2 separate regions of the Homo sapiens genome follow, and region 2 is linked to region 1. A link means that fine-mapping ties the variant in region 1 to the expression of a gene that starts in the linked region. Tissue or cell type: skeletal muscle. Region 1 holds a variant in brackets; the other region holds the start of a gene. All regions are shown on one strand. Distances are from middle to middle.

Region 1 (8,108 bases):
AGGGTGAGTTCCTTTAAGGACAGATGGTTTCCTTTATCTTTTAATTCTGCTGCTGACACCACCACCATCCACACCCAGCATTTGAGAAAGATTGCAACAAACATCTCAATGCCTACCAGGTGCCAGACGCTGAAGACACCAAGCTAAGTGCTTGTGAAAAATCAATTTAAAGGGGGAACAGACATAGCGTAATAGGATCTGGTGAACTGCATGTATAATTTAGGGGTGAACAAACTGTATGCAAAGGCTCCATGCAATGCAACTGAAGCAGGTTTAGATAGAAAGGTGAGAGATATAGTGTATATATAATATATACAGAATAACGTAAATAGTATATATAATATACACAGTATATCATAGTCTATCCAGTATATCATATGTAATATATACAATACAGTATATCAGTCTCTATATAATATATACCACATATAATATACACCATATGTTATATACTATATGTAACACATGCTGTATATCATAGTCTATATATAATATATGCAATATATCACAGTCTATATGATATATACTATACATTATATACAATATATATATTATATACATGTTGGCCAGGCCAACCTCAAACTCCAGACCTCAGGTGATCCTCCAGCCTCAGCCTCCCAAAGTGCTGGGATTACATGCATGAGGCACCATGCCTGGCCCTGAATACATTTCTTTTTAATGTGGATTTTAAATTTTTTTATTTTGGCTAGTGCAATTATCTGGTTTTCTTAAATAGAGATGAAAACGCATTCAATAAATATATAATATATATTCAATTCCTAAGTTGAATACTTTATTTTAAATGTTCATTAATTTTCATAGATATTAACTGCAAAGTGGATTTATAGCATGATAAAGAAAAAATATGAGTATAATTAATCTCTGTTTTTGTTGTTGGGTTGTATTCAAAGATGAATAGAACCAGGACTCTTAACCTCAAGATCCCAGGACTTATTGGGGTGGATAACATTGTACATAAACATGTATAAATGTGGTTAAATAGGTTTTAATAAAGAGTAGGGAGGATTTAGAGAAACTGTATCAACCATTAGATTTATTTTTATTAGTAACTAGATATTCCTTCCATGGATGTGGTTACGATTTTATAGTAACTTCTGGACCAAACCATGAAAACACTGTTGAACTTAGTTTATTATCAGTAACTCTCCATCTCAAGAACGTCATCTCTCTGAGCCTCAATTTGTACAAATGTAAAATTAAGAGGTTAGAACCGAACTACTTGTAATACAGTCTAAATAAGTTTTCCTAAGAACCACCCCACATAGGGGTCAGACTTCTAGATTTGGATACAGTTTAGGAATTTGCTAGAATTAAGCAAGAGGACTTGGAACATGAGGTTGGTTTTCATTCAAAATACAGCTGCTAAAAAGTTGAGCTAACTGCCATGCTTGCCAACAACATATTAAATACATCAAGTGGGATGACACTAGAGAGGCATAAATATTAGCAACGAAATAAAGGAAGATGGGGTAATTGACAGACTGGTGTGAAGGAAGGAATGATAAAAACCAACCCATCCAATGGCGATGTCCATGGTGCTGACCTTGAACCCCCAAGGGTGATATAACAAACTAGGCTCTGTGCTTTCTCTTTTTTTCTCCCTGAGACAGGGTCTCCCTCTGTCACCCAGGCTGGAGTGCAGTGGTGCACTCATAGCTCACTGCAGGATGGACCACCTGGGCCCAAGCAATCCTCCCACCTCAGCCTCCAGAGTAGCTGGGACCACCATGCATGGCTGATTTTCTAATTTTAATTTTTGTAGAGACAGGGTCTCGCTTTGTTGCCCAGGCTGCTTTTGCACTCCTGGGTCAAACAATTCTTAATATTATTAAATTTAAAAATATTTGCTTCTTCATAGCAACCAGTGCCAGTTATCTGCAAACATTTTATAGTAACCACCTGGCTGTATATCACTTATGGCACCTTTAAAAAATTCAGATGCATGGCCAGGCATGGTGGCTCATGCCTGTAATCCCAGCACTTTGGGAGGCTAGGGCGGGCGAATCACCTGAGATCTGGAGTTTGAGACCAGCCTGACCAACATGCAGAAACCCCATCTTTACTAAAAATACAAAATTAGCTGGGTGTGGTGGTGCGTGCCTATAATCCCAGCTACTCCACAGGCTGAGGCAGGAGAATTGCTTGAACTCGGGAGGCAGAGGTTGCAGTGAGCTGAGATTGTGCCACTACCCTCTAGCCTGGGTAACAGGAGTAAAACTCCGTCTCAAAACAAAATAAAACAAAACAAAAAAAATCAGACGCTCAGTCTGCAGTTTTGCCTGAATGCCTGCAGATTCAGATTTACTAAGTTTGGGGTGAACTTTATATTTAGCTGTATAACTTAAAGGTTGTTTGTCTGTTTGTTTTGTTTTTACTGTTGTTGTTGTTTGAGACAGGATCTGACTCCAGGCTGGAATGCAGTGGTGTCATCTCAGCTCACTGCAACCTCCACCTCCCAGGCTCAAGCGATTCTCCTGCCTCAGCCTCCCAAGTAGCTGAAACTACATATGCATGCCACTATGCCTAGCTAATTTTTTTAGTGTTTTTTGTGGAGATGGGTTTTCGCCATGTTGCCCAGGCTGTTCTCAAACTCGAGCTCAAGAAATCGGCCTGCCTTAGCCTCCCAAAATGTTGGGATTGCAGGCGTGAGCCACCACACCTGGCCTGTATATTTAAGTTTTTCAGTAATCCTGAGAAAAATTGGTGTTTGAGCACCCCAGTTCTACAGGCTACTTACTTTCCTTTATTTCTGATCAACATGTGCCTGGTAAAGGTATGCTGTTTACTAATTTTAAGATGTAGGAATGCCATCTTCCTTAAGGCCCAAGTCATACATTGTGAATTCATTCATTTCTTTAATTCACAAAAAAACACTTTTTGGGGACACTAACAATATTGTATGTATCATACTAAGCAGTAGGGGAATTCAAAGATGAACATAACAAAACAGGAAATCAGAATCTTGTAGAGGAGACAGGCTTACAAACAATTGCAATGCATTGTGAGTACTTTAGCATAGTTAAGAACAAAAAATGGAAGTTTTGCAAAGTTGGGGTTGATAGACTGTGCCTGGGGAGGGGTTTAGAAGAGGAGCAAGTTGGCAGCAAAGTTCCCAAGGGAGGACCCATTTGAGTTGGGTTGAGGGGACAAATAAATTGGGCTCCCAGGTTCCTGACTGCCACTGTCAATGGAGAATAGTAAATTATTTTCCAATTTCTCCTACTGCAGCCCACCAGATTCTCCTTCCCTAGAAATCCTGCAGCAATTAACGCGTATGTTAGTCAAATGGCATCTGACATCTACTGTTTTGCATTGCTCTGTATCTTTTACGTAGGTCTAGTCTTACTAGACTGTAAATTCACCAAACTGCAAGCTTTTTGAGGTAGGAACCACCTCCTATTGTTTTCCCAGTTGCTGGCATACACCAGACACCAATAAATATTTGTGGACCTCAAAGTTAGACTTAACACTCTCTGGGAACACAGACAGTCTTCAAGTGTGAAATTGCCAATACTGAATTTGAACACCAGTGTTGATGCCAGTTAGTAAATATTTGAATCTTGTGGCAAAAGGAGAATGCAAAGTGAATTTATTATTTCAATTGAATTACTTTAGAATAGATTATTTCAGAGTTTTCAAAAAATGACAATGTTTTTCTGTTTCATCCTATTCCATTTATTTATTTAACAAACACAGAGTCTTGCTCTGTTGCCTGGGCTGTAGTGCAGTGTTGTGATCTTGGCTCACTGCAACTTCCGCCTCCTGAGTTTAAGCAATTCTCCTGCCTCAGCCTCCCTAGCAGCTGGGATTACAGGCACCTGCCACCATG[C/A]CCGGCTAATTTTTGTATTTTTAGTAGAGACAGGATTTCACCATGTTGGCCAGGCTGCTCTCAGCTCCTGACCTCAAGTGAACCGCCCGTCTCGGCCTCCCAAAGTGCTGGGATTACAGGTGTGAGAACCACACCCAGCCTCATCCTATTCCACTGAAAACATTATTTCCACATTATTCGGACATTATTAAATTCCATAGTTTGTTTAGACATGCTTCAATCCGGGGCCCAGTTTATTAACATATTTCTAATAGTTGTGGGTCTGGAACTTGTCTCCCTACCAGGAGCTAGAATTTTTAGATGAAAGATTGTGAAGTCCCATTAAAGTGTGAATCTCTTATTCCTTCAGAAATTGCTAGTATCTACAATGGATTCTCAAATTAACAGCTACAAACGAAATCAATTTTCTTACATCTGCCAAAACACCAGGAGAGAACCTTCTATGTAGGACTTTCATATAATTCAAAAATTAACAACCATGACCAAAAAACCAAGCTGATGAGAAATACAGGTAAAATATTGACAGGCTGAGGCAGGAGCATTGCTTGTGGTCAGGAGTTTGAGACCAGCCTGGGCAACATAGTGAGACCTCGTCTCTGTAAAAAATTTAGCTGGGCATGGTGGTGTGCTGGGACCTGTAGTCCCAGCTATGCAGAAGGCTGAGGCTGGAGGGTTGCTTCAGTCCAGAAGTTTGAGGCTGCAGTGAGCTATGATCATGTCACTGCACTCTAGGCTGGGTGACAGAGCGACACTGTCTCTAAAAAATAAAAAATATATAGATTAAATAGGCAAAAGACGAACTCCAGCTTTAGTGTCTGGAAGTTATAACTCTACTTCAATGGTTGAAAGGTTTTATTTGCTACTTAGGGATTCTTGGCTTCGTGCACCGTAACTGGAATGTCAGATAAGTCATCCCCAGGGTAGGGAGGTGTGCCTGTATGTGTTTGTCAAGTGTTGTCACTCTCTTGGGAGGTTTAGATAATTTTATTAAGTGCCAAAATGTTCAGTAACAAAACCTTTATAAAGAAGTTGGGGCCGGGCGCAGTGGCCCACGCCTGTAATCCCAGCACTTTGGGAGGCTGAGGCAGGCAGATCACTTGAGGTCAGGAGTTCGAGAGCAGCCTGGGAAACATGGTGAAACCCTGTCTCTACTAAAAATACAAAAATTAGCTGGGCGAGGTGGTGGATGCTGTAATCCCAGCTACTCGGGAGGCTGAGGCAGGAGAACTACTTGAACCTGGGAGGCAGAGGTTGCAGTGATCTGCAATCATGCCACTGCACTCTAGCATGGTTGACAAAGGGAGAGGCCATCTTGAAAAAAAAAAAAAAAAGAAGAAGTTGGATGACGTACTTATCTTTGGGATCAACAAGACTAAAAGGGAATGTGGAACACTGTGCTTCCTTTTGCATGCATCCTGGGAGGAAGTAACCAGGACCACATGAAGGTAGGGTAATGCTATGGAGAGAAGAGGAACACACGCTTGGGACTAGAAGGTGGAACGAGGGTGCTCCAAAAACTCAACCTGCGGCAAGAAGCAGGATTACACTCTCATCTTCTCATCTGTACATTTTTTCCCAGGTGATTTTATTTGCCTCCATGGCTTCAAGTACATCCTATCATGGATGATTCCTATATGTACATATTTAGCCCTGAAGTCTTGTTTCTAGTTTATTTATTTTTACTGAGACAGAGTCTTGCTTTGTCGCCCAGGCTGGAACACAGTGGCATGATCTTGGCTCACTGCAAACTCCCACTCCCAGGTTCAAGCAATTCTCCTGCCTCAGCCTTCTGAGTAGCTAGGACTACAGGTGTGCATCACCAAGCCCAGCTAATTTTTATATTTTTAGTACAGATGGGGTTTCACTATGTTGGCCAGGCTGGTCTTGAACTCCTGACCTCAGGTAATCTGCCTGCCTCGGCCTCCCAAAGTGCTGGGATTACAGGCGTGAGCCACCATGCCCGGCTGTTTCTAGTTTTCTATATCCAACCACCTCCAAGAATATCCATCTGATCCTCCCACAGCTCAACAAGTCCCAAGACGAAGTCACCTGTTCAAAGCCTGGCCTTCCCATCTGCCCCATTCTGTTGAATATCCCTTTAACCTGGACTCCTTCCTCTTGGTTCTTTCCCACTTTGCATTGGTTCACTAGAATCTGCATGTTCTAACCACTAAATACATAGTTTTAAAATGCCTCCCCTCCTCTCCCATTCCTACCGCCCCTGCGTAAATGCAGATGCTGTCAATTTTCTCCAGTTTAACTTTTTGAACACGTTGGAAAGGAATAAGAGCAGAAGCAGAGTCCAGATGAGAGTGGATGGTGGCTTGGAGATGTGTGGTAGTGGTGAAGCTGGGTGTATTTTAGAGTTATTATAGAAACAACAGGGCTTATTGATGGCTAGGGCCATTATTGAAAAGGGGGAGCCTGAGAGAAGAACATGTTGGGTGGTAGAGGTGGGCAATCAGGTGCTCCGATTTGGGTAAGTTTGAGGTCCGTGTGAATATACAAGTGGGGAAGCTTGGAAATAAAAATTGAATCTAAGAGTGAGAAGTAAAGAGAAAAGAGCCAAATTCTTTTTTTTTTTTTTTTTTTTTTAATTTTTGAGACAGGGTCTCACTCTGTTGCCCGGGCTGGAAGGCTGTGGTGTGATCACTGCTCACTGCAGCCTCGACCTCCTTAGGCTCAGGTGATCCTCCCATGTCAGCCTCCCAAGTAGCAAGCATGGACCACCACACCTGGCTAATGAAAAGAGCCAGGTTCTAAGTGCTAAAGAACCCTAACTTTGAGAAGTTATGCAGAGGGATAGGAGTCTGTCTGTCCCTACCACTCCCTCCCCAAAAGAAAAAAAAAAAGAACTGGCAAGAGATGTCCAGAGAACATGGTGTCTCAGAAGCCAAGAGCAGAGAACATGTCAAGTTGGAGGTAGGGTTCAACGATTGTGAAGGCCGCTGACAGCTTGGGTAAGATAAGACGATGTTTATGACTTCTCTGACAGCACAGAGGTTGTTAGTGGCCTTGTTGGGAGCAATGTGTTAGAGCTGTGGGAGGAATATCTGGACATGAAGAGGAGAGGAAGGGAGAAGTTAAGTGCAGACCACTCATTTGTCAAAGGCCTGGCTGGGAAGGGGGGCAGAGCTAGGAGGCTGCATGGAGCGGGAGGAGCTGGGATGTGGTGTTTTGGGCTCTGATCATGGGCCACTCCATAATGTCCATAATATGTCATGCTGATGGAGTGATCCAGTAGAGAGGGGATGACTAGATGCTGCAGGATAGGAACTCTTGGGGCCAGGCACGGTGGCTCCCACCTCTAATCCTGCTTTGGGAGGCCAGGGTGGGCAGACTACTTGAGACCAGGAGTTCCAGACAGTCTGGGCACCATGGCAAAACCCCATCTCTACAAAAAAAAAACAAAAAACAACAAAAAAAAAACAACTAGCAGGGCATTGTGGCGTGCACCTGCAATCCCAGCTACTCCGGAGGCTGATGTAGGACAATCACTTGAACCTGGGAGGTTGAAGCTGTGAAGCCGCAGTGAGCTATGCTTGTGCCATTGCAATCCAGCCTGGGTGACAAAGCAGGACCTTGATTCCAAAAAGAGAAAGAAAAAGTCTTGGAAGGTGAGAAACAAAGAACACAAAAACTTTTTTTTTTTAATAGATAAGAGGTCTTGCTATATTGTCCAGGCTGATCTTGAACTCCTGGGCTCAAATGATCCTCCTGCCTCAGCCTCCGAAAATGCTGGGATTACAGGTGTGAGCCACCATGCCTGGCCAAGAACAGGAGGATTCTGACAGGAGGAGAGATGCTTCTTCTAACAGGAGGGAAGAAGGAGAACACACAAGGGGCACAGATAAAGGCAGGTTTACAGATTTGGTGGTGGCAAGATGAGGCTGTTGCTATCTGTGAAGTTTTTATTTCTTAGTGGAGCATGAAGTGAGGTCAATAAATGAAATAAGTGGCCGGGTGCGGTGGCTCTTGCCTGTAATCCTAACACTTTGGAAGGCCAAGTTGGGTGGACCATGAGGTCAGGAGTTCGAGACCAGCCTGGCCAACATGGTGAAACCCCGTCTCTACTAAAAATACAAAAATTAGCTGGGCGTGGTGGCACACACCTGTAATCCCAGCTACTCATGAGGCTGAGGCAGGAGAATCTCTTGAACCTGGGAGGTGGAGGTTGCAGTGAGACTAGATCGTGTCACTGCACTCCAGCCTGGGCAACAGAGTGAGATTCTGTCTCAAAAATAAATAAATAAAAATA
Region 2 (8,108 bases), 330 kb after region 1:
GAGGTGCCACTGACAATCTCTCTGAGGCCTAGAGTGCTGAGATACTGTTCTTGTTACTCCTCCGTTTCCTCTTCTGTTACCTATCAATCCCTGTCACCTGCTTCCCGTTCACCCAACCTTCACGCAGGAGCTATTCAATTCCCTGGAGAATTACCAGTTTCATACTTTAATGTTGCCCAATAGAAATGTCATATGGCCAAATATATCACTGAAATTTTCCAGCAGCCACATTAAAAAGGTAAACAGCAACAGGTGAAATTAATTGTAACAATGCATTTGTTTAACCCAGCATATCCAAAACATGGTCATTGCAACATGTCATCAATTTAAAATTTACTAATGAAGATGTGTTATATTCTTTATTTCATCTTAAGCCTTTGATATCTGGTGTGTATTTCACATTTACAGCACATATCAGTTCAGACCAGCCACATTTCAAGGGCTCAAAAGCCACAGGTGGCTAGCAGCTACCACAATGAACAGACAGATCTGGAGCTTGGAGAAAGGGTCCTCCATGAGCACCTGGACTTTGGAAGTAGACTGTGTCCAGGTTCACGCTGAAACTGTTCAACAGGTTACCTAAAAAGCAATGCAATTTTCTTAAATGGGGACTTTCAAGAATTTGCAGTTAGATTGCCATTCATTTCCCATGTAAGAAACGTATCCATTTTGGGCTGGGCATGGTGGCGCACGCCTGTAATCCCAGCACTTTGGGAGGCCAAGGCGGGCAGATCACCTGAGGTCAGGAGTTTGATACAAGCCTAGCCAACATGGTGAAACCTCGTCTCTACTAAAAATACAAAAAAATTAGCTGAGCATGGTGGCGGGCGCCTGTAGTCCTAGCTACTGAGGAGGCTGAGGCAGGAAAATTGCTTGAAACCAGGAGGTGGAGGTTGCAGTGAGCTGAGATAATGCCACTGCACTCCAGCCTGGGTGACAGGGTGAGACTCCGTTTCAAAACACAAAACAGAACAAAAACAAAAACAAAACAAAACAAAAACCAGGGCTTTGAGAAATGTATCATTTTGTTTATGGCAATGTACTGGGGCAAAGGGACCGGAATGTATCAGGATGCTCCCTCTCTCTAGACAGAATGATTGATACAGAAAAGGAAAATGGCAGAGTTTGCAAATCTACATCTTCTGCTTTCTTCATACAAATATAATACTATAATCCAGAGGTGAGGTAGAATGATTCCTAAAACCAATCATTGCTTTAGAGGTTCCATTTGTAAATAGAAACTCCATTTCTAGGTAGAACTGCCCAATAATTCTGAGTAGAATTACTCGGTGCCACATACAAGGAGGATGCTCTAGAGCCAGCCTCCTTTCTCAGGCAGTTTTTACTGCTGGTCTGTTCTGCCCAAACAGAGAGATGGAAGAGATGGCTTTCCCAAGCCTCACACAATCCTATGATGCCATGATTTATCAGATATAAAATAAACAAGGTAATGTTTCCCTCAAATAATGGGTGTGAGATGAACGCAATTCAAGTCAAATTGCTTTCATTTTTGGAAGGCAGAGAAAGCAAGGAGATGAATGTTGATGCAGTTGAATATTTATATCTCTTAAACTTGCTTTTAAAATCCATTCTGCCCTTTCTCTTCTCTCTCCTTTATCTATGCAATCACTTGCTAATTCCTGTGAATTGAACTTTGAAATGTTTGATACATAGAACTGTCATATCCATTATCTTTTCATCTCTTTTTCGCTTAGGCCTTATTACCTCGGCCCAAACTGTTACATCTGTCTGCTGCCTGGCAGCTTCACCTCTGGACTCCTAAGACTTGAAACTATCTTACAGAACATTTCCAAGTGAATATTCCCAAATGAGCTGCTATGTGGGTCCTCTTTTGAACTCCTTCCACAGTTCCCTGTCGCTCAATACACTAAAGATTCCAAGTCCCCAAGATGTAGTCTCAAATTGCTTTGTCAGTTTTACGCCTGTGTCCAATCTTGACCTTACCATGCTCTTTTTGAACTAGAAACGATAAATTATCCTGTAAGACTTCTTACTTCTGGGACTCTGTTTCATGTACGACTGCTTACCAACTCTCTCAAAAATATCTGGTGTAATCTGACCCATCCTTCAATTCTCTTTGCAAATGCCACCTCATCAATGAAGTCCTTACAGATTCCTCCAAATAGCGTGTTTATTATCCTTATTCCTTTGAAGCCATTTACTAGTCAGAACTTCTCTTCCAGCCCCTATACATATATCCTAATTGCTGCTACTGGAATATAAATTCTTTGAAGGCAGAAATTGTGTCTTTTCACATCAGAATCATTTCCACATTGCTGCTGTACAATAACTTGACTTACATTTAATCATTGTACATAAATCACAAAGTAAATTAGTATCTCTTATCTGAATGCAGTTATGTGAGCCCTGACTTTGATGTCCAGGAATTTAGGAACTCTATTTTTATCATAAGAATAAAAACTTTTCTAAAATATCCCTCAAGGAAGATCAAAGGCAAATGAGGGTCTAAATGTCCTTTCCTTTGATGGAGGACTCGAATACTGATAGTATTCAAGACCTTCATCCTAGAATAACCGAGGTCTCCGGGTACATTTTTCATTCTGTCTAACCTGGCAAGCATCTAGATAAAAATCAGGAGTCTAGAACAAATGCAAACTCTATTGGTTAAAATTCAGATCCTCTGGCAGAGGCCAGATGGGAATGTAGCTGGTTCATTACATGTCCCTACTCGGCTTGTGAAGCAAACAGCCCAGGGTGGACCAAAATCTAGCTGTTTTACCACTACAAAAGAAATAGATTTCTGATTACACAAGTCCTTGGTGTCCACATTCTTCCCCTTCTCAAGTCAAAGTGAATTATGTGTTTTAAGTTAGCACATTAATTTCCCAATGGTAAAAGAAAGTTCAATAAAGCTAGACTACTATGCCACTTGGAACTGCCATGATTACAATATCAAAATATCTAGAGCACTCATGTTCCACCTATCAAAACAACAGCAAGAAAACATTTGCCACCTTTATTAGCTTGTCACACTCCTGCCCCCACTACTACAGCAAATGATACTCTAACATGCTCTCTAGTGTGTGTATGTGTGTCTACGTATTAATATATAAGTATATATACACACACATATATATCTTACCGCAAATTAAAATCTGGCAAATGTAGGCTTGAAATCAACAAGCCAACACAGTTAAGCAAACAGACATTTCTCCAGAATGCTGCCTGAAATGTAACCAAGACCTCTTCACATCACTGGCCAGCCAACAGCCAGCCCGCAGCTAGGAGTCTGAAGTCATTTCCCTGCCGGGAGAAAAGTTGAGCGACTCCTCATCGCTGAGACCTGGAGGTGTCTGTAACCCAAACTGTACCTGCTGAAGCCTTACGTAAAAACGTAAAAACCACCTTGTCATTGCCCAGCGCCTACAACTGACATCTCCAATTTCACAACAACCTGCAGCGAAGCTGACTTTTTCCAGAAACCGCAAACACTCAACGGAGAGAAAGGGGATCCTGGAGATCCCTGAAATGGCTAACATTTCAGGGGAGACGGAAAAATAAAAACTTTCTTGTCCCCAGCTCACTCGCTTCTTAAGGGAAAGGCATGAGGTGGGACAGGCAAACCTTGGCAAGTGCCCGAGGGGACTGGAGAGCTGTCAGCCCCAGGTGCGCAGCGTGGTCCGGGCAGCTCTGGGGGGATCCGGCAGGGCACCCCCATATTCGCTCCCCTCCTGCCCACCTGCACCCCATCATCCTCACACCCACGCCCACCCCGGCTCGGAGCGTGGCCAGGAGAGTCGGCATCGTAGAAAGCGCTGCGGGAAGCGGGCCCCCTCCCGCCCACCCGGACTCACGATCTTCAGCAGGTCCAGTCCACTCCCCTGATTCATGTCTCTCCATGTGCCTCTCCCGGGAAGGGGCGAGGAGGGCCAGCTGGAGCAACCCGGGAGAAGTCTGGGAGGACTGGCAGGTCTCCCCCGCCCTTCCCCACTGGCTTTTCGGAAGCAGAGAAAAATGGAAGCCGAGGCAGAGCCAGGAAAAGGCGCAAAGGGGCAGGGTCCCCGGCGCCAGGAGAGGAGCAGAGGGTGGGCAGGCGACGAGGGGAGGAGGTGCGAGGCTAGAGATCCCTGCAGTGGAGGCGCCGGGAGAACCCGAGGTCGGTGCCCTGCCCGGCGGCTCACAAAGGAAGGAGAAGGCGCCGCGCTCTCGCTACCTGTGCGGCGGCTCCGAGCGCCCCCGCGGGAGCCACGTTCTCTAGCAGTTCCATCTGGATCTCCTGCGCCACCGCCGCCGCCGCTGTGGGAGGCGACTTGGACATGTCCCTTTGGACCATTGGCGAAAAGTCGGCTCGGAGCGAAGCAGCCAGCCCCCGGCGGCGGGTCCCCTCCTCCTCGCCCCCGCCTCCCCGCGCTCTGATCGGCTCTGGGGGCCGCCCAGGGCTCAGGCCCGGCCGTTCTCGGCGCAGCGCCCCGCAGCGCCCCGGGACTCGGCGCCCTGCTGCCAGGCGCTCAGTGCGCGGGACGGGGCCGGGGCATCGGGCGAAGCGAGCCGCTCGGGAGGCGGGACGCGGGGGCGCGGCTGCGGTGCCTGGGAGAGGGGAGCCCTCAGCGGGGCAGCCGGGGCCGGGAGAGCGGGCGCAGCGCGGCGGGGATCGGAGCCGCGGGCGCCGGGAAAGGTCCTCGCCAGGAGGGGAGGGAACTCCGGGAGCGCGAGCCAGGGGGAGGCGCGTCGGAAAGCGAGAGTGACAAGCAGCCTACAAGCCGAAAAGTTCCTCGCGGGAGGCGCGCGCCGCGTGGGCTCCGACTCAGCCGCTGCGCGTCGCCGTGGCACACAGGCTGAAAAGTTTGCGAAGCCACAGAAGCCAGGCCCGGCGCTCAGGGGGCCTTGATCCTGTTCCCATGGCCCCAGACCACCCCTCAGGAACCCTTAGAGCAGATCTCTTAACTTTGGAGGGGAAGGACGACGGAGGCTGGGTTCCTACACTGAAAGTTTTAAATTTGTAAAGCCTGCTGGCAGCCCGGGAGAGCAAATGTCTGCAAAGAACATCTTCTGGGCAGCTGAAAGCCCTTGCTAATGTCAGTAATAAGGATCCAGAGAAAGAAATGGCATTGATAAAGATCATCAGGTGATCCCACCTGAATCTGCAGCTGGCCTCGTCAACTAGGTGGGAATCCACCCAACCTGAGACCGAATGTTTTGCTTTATGACTGCTGTCTTCATCTTTGCCAAATTAAATTAGCACTTCTTTCCAAACATAATTGAAGTTTGTTGTTGTTGTTGCTTGTTGTTGTTTTAGACGGAGTCTCACTCTGTCGCCCAGGCTGGAGTGCAATGGCGCGATCTCAGCTCACTGCAACCTCCGCCTCCTGGGTTCAAGCGATTCTCTAGCCTCAGCCTCACGAATAGCTGGGATTACAGCCACAGGCCACCAAGCCCAGATAATTTTTGTGTTTTTAGTGCAGACGGGGTTTCACCATGTTGCCCGGGCTGGTCTTGAACTCCTGACCTCAAGTAATCCACCGGCCTCGGCCTCCCAAAGTGCTGGGATCACAGGGGTGGGACACCACGCCAGGCCAGGGTTGAGGTTTTTCTATAGGGGTGAAAAGTCTTAGTGTCACATTTTTGACAAAACAAGCACTTCCTTAAGATCCAGAATTCTTGATAACAGGATAGTGACTATGGTGAGGGTGTTTCACTTACAACATTCCGTTCAGATAGTCCCAAGGAGCCACATTTTTACATGATTGAGTGCAACTTATTTCAACAAATTTTACTACAGTGGAAACTTCTGTAATGAGTTTTCCAGGCATTTTTTTTTTTTTTTTTTTGAGACAGAATTTCACTCTTGTCACCCAGGCAGGAATACAGTGGCACGATCTTGGCTCACTGCAACCTTCGCCTCCTGGGTTCAATCCATTCTCCTGCCTCAGCCTCCCGAGTAGCTGGGATTACAGGTGCACGCCACCACAGCCGGCTAATTTTTTTGTATTTTTAGTAGAGATGGGGTTTCACCACGTTGCCCAGGCTGGTCTCGAACTCCTGACCTCAGGTGATCTGCCCGCCTCTGCCTCCCAAAGTGCTGGGATTACAGATTTGAGCCACTGCATCCAGCCTAATTTTTGTATTTTTTAGTAGAGACAGGGTTTCGCCATGTTGGCCAGGCTGGTCGCAAACTCCTGACCTCATGATCCGCCCACCTTGGCCTCCCAAAGTGCTGGGATTACAGGTGTGAGCCACCGTGCCCATCCAGCTCCAGAAACCTATTTATATGTTATTTTGTAACAACAAACTGAAAGTTTGGTATATTGAAATACACATGCAAAAATTTACTATAATAGGCTTCAACTGCCTTCTATAGTTTACTATGATATATTAAATTACATGAGATACAGTACTTTTCTCCTCAAAGATAAGCATAGACATTTTAAACCTATCATCTCCACCATAGCACTGATTTGCGCCAGGCTTAAAGAATGGGTCTTGATACAGTTAAAGATTTAGCCATAAAGCATCATTGATTTTCCTAAACTTTGGTATTAAAAATGCCACTTTTATGGGCTACGGACACAAATAGAAAATTCTCAAAAGAAGATATACAAATGGCCAACAAACATATGAGAAAATGCTCAACATCAATAATGATCAGGGAAATGCAACTCAAAACCACAAAGTGATACCACCTTACCCCTGTAAGAATGACCATAATCAAAGAATCAAAAAACAGATGTTGGCATGGATGCAGTGATCAGGGAACACTTCTGCACTGCTGGTGGGAATGTAAACTAGTACAGCCACTATGGAAAACAGTGTGGAGATTCCTTAAAGGACTAAAAGTAGAACTACCATTTGATGTAGCAATGCCACTACTGGGTATCTACCCAGAGGAAAAGAAGTCATGATTCAAAAAATATACTTGCACATGCATGTTTACAGCAGCACAATTCACAGTAGCAAAATTGTGGAACCAACCCAAATGCCCATCAATCAACGAGGTGATAAAGAAACTCTGATATATATGATGATGGGATACTACTCAGCCATGAAAAGAAATAAATTAACAGCATTTGCAATGACCTGGATGAGATTAGAGACTATTATTCTAAGTGAAGTAACTCAGGAATGGAAAATCGAACATCATATGTTCTCACTGACATGTGGGAGCTAAGCTATGAGGATGCAAAGGCATAAGAATGATACAATGGACTTTGGTGACTTGGGGGGAAGTGTGGGAGGGGGCACGGGATAAAAGACAACAAATATGGTGCAAGGTATACTGCTAGGTTGATGGGTGTACCAGGTTCTCACAAATCTCCACTAAAGAACTTACTCATGTAACCGAATACCACCTGTACCCCAATAACTTATGGAAAAATAAAATTAAAAAAATTAAAATGCCACTTTTATTTAAATTTTGCTGAATGTTAAACAGCAGCACTTAAATATTGGTTTGTAATAATTTCTAAAATGGGAACATTTTGAACAGCAACAATCAGCCATGCTTTTATATGTATGCCTGTATGTATGTGTGTGTGAAAATGGAAAAGAAATTGTGTTTAAAGTTTTCGACTTATAGTCTACTTTTGCCCCATGCTCTGTTGATAATATCACTGTTTTAGGCCTACTCATTTAATCAAACTGTGAAGTTTTCTTGAGCATGTGTTTAAATCTTAGGGAAAACATTAAATCCATTTCAGACTGTAAACTCTGTGTGGACAGGAACCACACTTATTCTCTAGGACACATTCAGAATCTGGCAAGTTGCCCTCTGAGTTCTTTCAATAGTCATCCAATAAAGTATGAATCAAGCTTCTATTTTGTGCCACCTGATGAGCACAGCCAACAAAGACCAGGTTACCAGCTCCATGGGGCTTACAGTCTTGCTAGTTAGCACTTAAAAGCCAATTAATAAATGAAGGAAAGAAGGGAGGGAGGGAGGGAGGAAGGAAGGAAGGAAGGAAGGAAGGAAGGAAGGAAGGAAGGAAGGAGAAAACAAAAGAAGAAACATTATTTAAAAAAAAACACCAGGTTTGGTGAAACTGAGTGTTTTCTCATGATGTCTGTCCAGTTTCTTATAGCATGCTTATTTGTGCATTCGCTTTCAATTAGGACCATTTGGGAAGTAGAAT

The links. PIP is the estimated chance that this variant, and not a neighbour inherited with it, causes the effect.
Region 2: CACNB2 starts here. The variant in region 1 is fine-mapped to the expression of CACNB2 in skeletal muscle (FUSION, PIP 0.92).

The regions. Positions count from the first base shown.
Region 1 is chr10:18,462,756-18,470,863 of GRCh38, reverse strand. All of the region lies in intron 3 of CACNB2 (calcium voltage-gated channel auxiliary subunit beta 2), which reads right to left. Among named protein-coding and RNA genes, the nearest start is that of CACNB2-AS1, 72 kb to the left of the region's middle. The variant C/A (reference allele first, on the strand shown) is at 3,851.
Region 2 is chr10:18,136,944-18,145,051 of GRCh38, reverse strand. It overlaps CACNB2 (calcium voltage-gated channel auxiliary subunit beta 2), which reads right to left and starts at 4,628. Exons shown (of 14, transcript NM_201596.3): 1 at 4,196-4,628. The coding sequence starts at 4,315.